2 separate regions of the Homo sapiens genome follow, and region 2 is linked to region 1. Evidence: fine-mapped expression QTL. A gene starts in region 1. The other region holds a variant in brackets. All regions are shown on one strand. Distances are from middle to middle.

Region 1 (2,900 bases):
TTAAACGGGAAAGAAAAAAAATGGAGGCAGAACCCATAATTCAAAATAACCATAAAAAAAAAAGCAAAAGATTTTAGATTTTGCAAACTGTGCCTTTTAACCTGCTATCCTTTCAAGTAATTTTTAAAGAAGGATTTTTTTAATCCACAGAATATTTTGCTTCATCCAGGAGCAGCTGGATCTCATACCATCCGGTATCCCCCGCCTCCATACACACGCCCCTACCACTATCAGCCCTTGAGCCAAACGATCCATCACGGTAAAAAAAAAAAAAAAAAAAAAAAATTAAACCAGGAGGTTCATCTTCCCAATTCTCTCTAAGAAACAGTCATAGTCTGTCCTCCTCCCACCCCCAGGAAAACTGCCTATTCTAACAGAACTAGGAGGGAGGGGGGAATCAGCTCATCATCCTTCTCCATAGGGAAAAAAATGGCATTAACTTCCAACAAGAAACTGCTGCTCTTCTACCGTATCCCCTTTAGAACATAAAATATTAAGAAAGGGTTTCTGAAGCATTCACAGGAACAGAAAACTGAAGCCTGAAGCACTTCACTCTGCAGCAAGATAACCCCTTAAAAATCATCCAGAATTTGGGGGATGGAGGTAACCCGTCAACACCCGCGACACCCCTACCCTAAGGTGGGGAGCAGGATTCCGTCAAACAGAAAATGCCACTCTCCGCCCCCTCCGCCATCCGGAACGCTGACCGGCGCGGAGTGCGGGGGCGGCCGAGGGCGGGAGCGGCGAGGAGGCGGGACGCGACACACGCACCACGCCGAGAACTGCTTCACCGCTTTTTTAAAGGTTTTTAAAATGCAGTTTCTCCAGCCGGAGAATTCCCACCCATTCACCAGCCCCAGCCCTCACCCAGCTCCCCACCCCCATCGGGGGCTCCGCTGGGCCGTGTCCCCGAGGCGGCCTCGGCCCCACGCCCCGAGGCGCGCGGCCCCCGGCGGGGGGGTCCCCGACGCGGCCCAGCTGGGGATGCTTCGCACCTGTATGTAGTTGTTCTCGCAGTAATCGGCCACCCGTTCCAGATTTGTGTAGCTGTCGAAGAGGGCCCGGCGGCCCCCCGGGATTTCCTCTTCCAGCAGCATCTGCAGCTCCGCCATCTTCACATCCTCCTCCTCCTCCTCCTCATACAGGTCGCAGAGGGAGCGGCGGCCGCAGCGCCAAGGAAACCCAGGACCGGGAGAGGAGGAGCGGCGGCGACGGCGGCGGTAACTCGGAAGGAGCGAGAAACAGCCCCAGCGCGCGACAGGGGAGGGGGCGACGGGGGCGGGGCGCGAGCCGACGGACTCCGAGGACGGTCACCGCGGCGACGGCCGGCCGGGCGCGCGCACGCGCGCTCCCTTCCCTCCGCCCCCGGGAGCCCGAAAAAGATTCCCACCCTCGCCCGCGCCGCCGGCCCCTCCCCCACTTCCGGCGTCTCCTAGCGACGGCGGGGGTAGGGGCCGGGATGCGCGCGGGAGTTGGTGGTGCAGTTAACCCTTCCGCCGCCCGCCCGCCGCTGGAGCGGCTGGAGAAGCCCCCACCTCCCGGCGGCCTTTGTTAGCCCGGCGGGAACACACCACCCTGCTCAGCTGGCTTCCTGCCGGCTCCCTCCGGGACTCATCTCGGCTCCGTCCCCATGGAGGTCATCGGCCTAGGGAACTTCTCGAGGCTTTTCTCCCTCTGCTGCTGACGGGAGGCCGAAGGAGGGCACAGCCTCCACTCTTGGGACCCTCCTCTGTGAAAGATCACACCTCAACAGGGCAGGAATAAAACTTCCACGCAGCTTTCAATGCCACCTGACTTCATTTTTCTCAGATTTGACCTCATCCTCTTTGTTGCAGTGAATTGCAGTTTCCTAACCCCAGCTTTCCTGCGCCCCTGCCTCTTTGCACTTCCCCACTAACGCTGTTCTCCCCTGCCAGATTAGCCCCTTTCTCTCCTGGTTTGCGGTGCCGTGGGCCTCAGCTTTTTATGTTTGCCATTTCTATGATTCGCTTCCTCACTCATAACCTTTTCTGTCATTTCTCTAATGCTATCAACTTCGCTGTCCTTTTTCCTATTCATGGATTCAGTATTTAAAATTTTGAAAACGATTTTGCTAGTAGTAATTGCCTTCTTCACAGGGCTGTTACATAGATAAAATCAACGTTTATTGTGAAAATACCTTGAAAAAACATTAAGTGCTACAAAAATTCAAGGCAGATAATTTTCCTCTTGCAGAGTTATAATTCTGTTTTTATTCTCCAGATACTGTGTCTTGTTTTCCTAAATCAGACTACCCCACACAATGTAATCTGGAAAAACTAAAACTCCTGACCATTGCTGAGATATGAAGCCATGACCTTTATTTGTGCTGTGGAAAATCAAAGTTGATTCCAGGCAGTACCATCTTAGACTTGTGTAGTTAGAACAAGATCCATTGTTTCAACACTTTTCTTAATCTGGTGATCTCTTGGCCCTCCTACAGTGAATTTTTTTCATTCAGATGATGAGGAAACTTATACTTTCAAAAAAAAATCACTTTAGGACGGGCGCGGTGGTTCACGCCTGTAATCCCAGCACTTTGGGAGGCCGAGGCGGGCGGATCACGAGGTCAGGAGATCGAGACCATCCTGGCTAACACAGTGAAAACCCGTCTCTACTAAAAATAAAAATAAAAAAATTAGCTGGGCATGGTGGCGGGCGCCTGTAGTCCCAGCTACTCGGGAAGCTGAGGCAGAAGAATGGCGTCATCCTGGGAGAAGAGCTTGCAGTGAGCGGAGATCGTGCCACTGCACTCCAGCCTGGGCGACAGAGCGAGACTCCGTCTCAAAAAAAAAAAAAATCACTTTAATACCATATCATTACAAATATCTGGAGCAAACCCTAATGTTATATTGGCTTCATGATACATACATTAGCAGAAT
Region 2 (2,900 bases), 310 kb before region 1:
GAATAGAGTTGGAATGATCTTAGTTCAACGCCTGACCCTGTTATTTACCAAGTGTGTGTGAATTTGAGCAAACTTACCCTTTTTTTTTTTTGGAGACGGAGTCTCACTGTGTCGCCCAGGCTGGAGTGCAGTGGCGCCATCTCAGCTCACTGCAAGCTCTGCCTCCCGGGTTCACAAGATTCTCCTGCCTCAGCCTCCTGAGTAGCTGGTACTACAGGCGCCCGCCACCACGCCCGGCTAATTTTTTGTATTTTCAGTAGAGACGGGTTCTCACCGTGTTAGCCAGGATGGTCTCGATCTCCTTGAGAGGTGACAGCGTGCTGGTAGTCCTCACAGCCCTCGCTCACTCTCGGCGCCTCCTCTGCCTGGGCTCCCAATTTGGTGGCACTTGAGGAGCCCTTCAGCCCGCCACTGCACTGTTGGAGCCCCTTTCTGGGCTGGCCAAGGCCAGAGCCGGCTCCCTCAGCTTGCGGGGAGGTGTGGAGGGAGAGGCACGAGCGGGAACCGGGCTGCGTGCGGTACTTGCGGGCCGGCGCGAGTTCCAGGTGGGTGTGGGCTCCACGGGCCCCGCACTCGGAGCGGTCGGCCGGCACCGCCGCCCCGGCAGTGAGAGGCTTAGCACTTGGGCCAGCAGCTGCTGTGCTCAATTTCTCGCCGGGCCTTAGCTGCCTTCCCGTGGGGCAGGGCTCGGGACATGCAGCCCACCATGCCTGAGCCTCCCCCCCGCCCCCTCCGTGGGCTCCTGTGTGGCCCGAGCCTCCCCGACGAGCGCTGCCCCCTGCTCCACGGCGCCCAGTCCCATCGACCACCCAAGGGCTGAGGAGTGCGGGCACACTGCAGCGCCAGACTGGCAGGCAGCTCCATCTGCGCCCTGGTGCGGGATCCATTGGGTGAAGCCAGCTGGGCTCCTGAGTCCGGTGGGGACTTGGAGAACCTTTATGTCTAGCTCAGGGATTGTAAATACACCAATCGGCACTCTGTATCTAGCTCAAGGTTTGTAAACACACCAATCAGCACCCTGTGTCTAGCTCAGAGTTTGTGAATGCACCAAATGGACACTCTGTATCTAGCTACTCTGGTGGGGACTTGGAGAACTTTTATGTATAGCTAAGGGATTGTAAATACACCAGTCAGCACCCTGTGTCTAGCTCAGGGTTTGTGAATGCACCAATCGACACTCTGTATCTAGCTACTCTGGTAGGAACTTGGAGAACCTTTGTGTCCACACTCTGTATCTAGCTAACCTAGTGGGGAGGTGGAGAACCTTTGTGTCTAGCTCAGGGATTGTAAACTGCACCAATCAGCACCCTGTCAAAACAGACCACTTGGCTCTCTGTAAAATGGACCAATCAGCAGGATGTGGGTGGGGCCAGATAAGAGAATAAAAGCAGGCTGCCCTAGTCAGCAGTGGCAACCTGCTGGGGTCCTCTTCCACCCTGTGGAAGCTTTGTTCTTTCACTCTTTGCAATAAATCCTGCTGCCGCTCACTCTTTGGGTCCACACTGCCTTTATGAGCTGTAACA[G/C]TCGTCGCGAAGGTCTGCAGCTTCACTCCTGAAGCCAGCGAGGCCACAGACCCACCGGGAGGAACGAACAACTCCAGACGCGCCGCCATAAGAGCTGTAACACTCACCACAAAGGTCCGCAGCTTGACTTCTGAGCCAGCGAGAGCACGAACCCACCGGAAAGAAGAAACTCCGAACACATCCGAACATCAGAAGGAACAAACTCCGGACACGCCGCCTTTAAGAACTGTAACACTCACCGCGAGGGTCCACGGCTTCATTCTTGAAGTCATTGAGACCAAGAACCCACCAATTCCGGACACATCCTGAACTCCTGATCCGCCCACTTCAGCCTCCCAAAGTGCTGGGATTACAGGCGGGAGCCACCGCGCCTGGCCACCCTTTTTATATTTTCTCGTCTACAAAAAATGGAATATGAATATCCACTCCTTCAAACTATGAAACTACTACAAGAAAAAATCAGAAAAATTTCCAGGACATTGGTCTGGGCAAAAATTCCTTGAGCAAAAACTCATAAAAGCACAGGCAACCAAAGCAAAAAATGGACAAACGGGATTACATCAAGGTAAAAAGCTTCTGCACAGCAAAGGAAACAATCAACAAAGTGAAGAGACAACCCACAGAATGGGAGAAAATATTTGCAAACTACCCATCCGACAAGGGATTAATAACCCGTATATATAAGAAGCTGAAACAACTCTATAGGAAAAAATCTAATCCAATCAAAAATAGGCAAAATATTTGAACAGACATTTTTCAAAAGAAGACATATAAATGGCAAACAGGAACAGGAAAAGGTGCAACAACACTGATCATCAGAGAAATGCAAATCAAAACTACAAGGAGATATAGCACCCCAGTTAAAATGGCTTATATACAAAAGACAGGCAGTAACAAATGCTGGTGAGGACGTGGAGAAAACGGAGCCCTCATACACTGTGTACAACCACTATGGAGAAAAGTTTGGAGGTTTCTCAAAAAACTAAAAATTGAGCTACCATATGATCCAGCAATCCCAGTGCTGAATATATACCCAAAAGAAAGGAAATCGGAGCCAAGCGTGGTGGCTCACGCCTGTAATCCCAGCACTTTGGGAGGCCGAGGCGGGCAGATCACGAGGTCGGGAGATCGAGACCATCCTGGCTAACACGGTGAAACCCCATCTCTACTAAAAATACAAAAAATTAGCCAGGCGTGGTGGCGGGTGCTGGGACTCCCGAGTAGTCCCAGCTACTCGGGAGGCTGACGCAGGAGAATGGCATGAACCCGGGAGGCGGAGCTTGCAGTGAGCTGAAATCGTGTCACTGTACTCCAGCCTGGGAGACAGAGTGAGACTCCTTCTCAAAAAAAAAAAAAAAAAAAAAAGGAAATCGGTAT

The links.
Region 2: its variant is fine-mapped to the expression of ABI2 in whole blood (TOPMed, PIP 0.99).

Annotation. Positions count from the first base shown.
Region 1 is chr2:203,326,727-203,329,626 of GRCh38, reverse strand. It overlaps ABI2 (abl interactor 2), which reads right to left and starts at 1,233. Exons shown (of 12, transcript NM_001375670.1): 1 at 996-1,233. The coding sequence starts at 1,112. RefSeq lists silencers at 665-1,014, 1,291-1,478, 1,235-1,574 and an enhancer at 1,376-2,346.
Region 2 is chr2:203,640,795-203,643,694 of GRCh38, reverse strand. No RefSeq gene overlaps it. Among named protein-coding and RNA genes, the nearest start is that of CD28, 64 kb to the left of the region's middle. The variant G/C (reference allele first, on the strand shown) is at 1,524.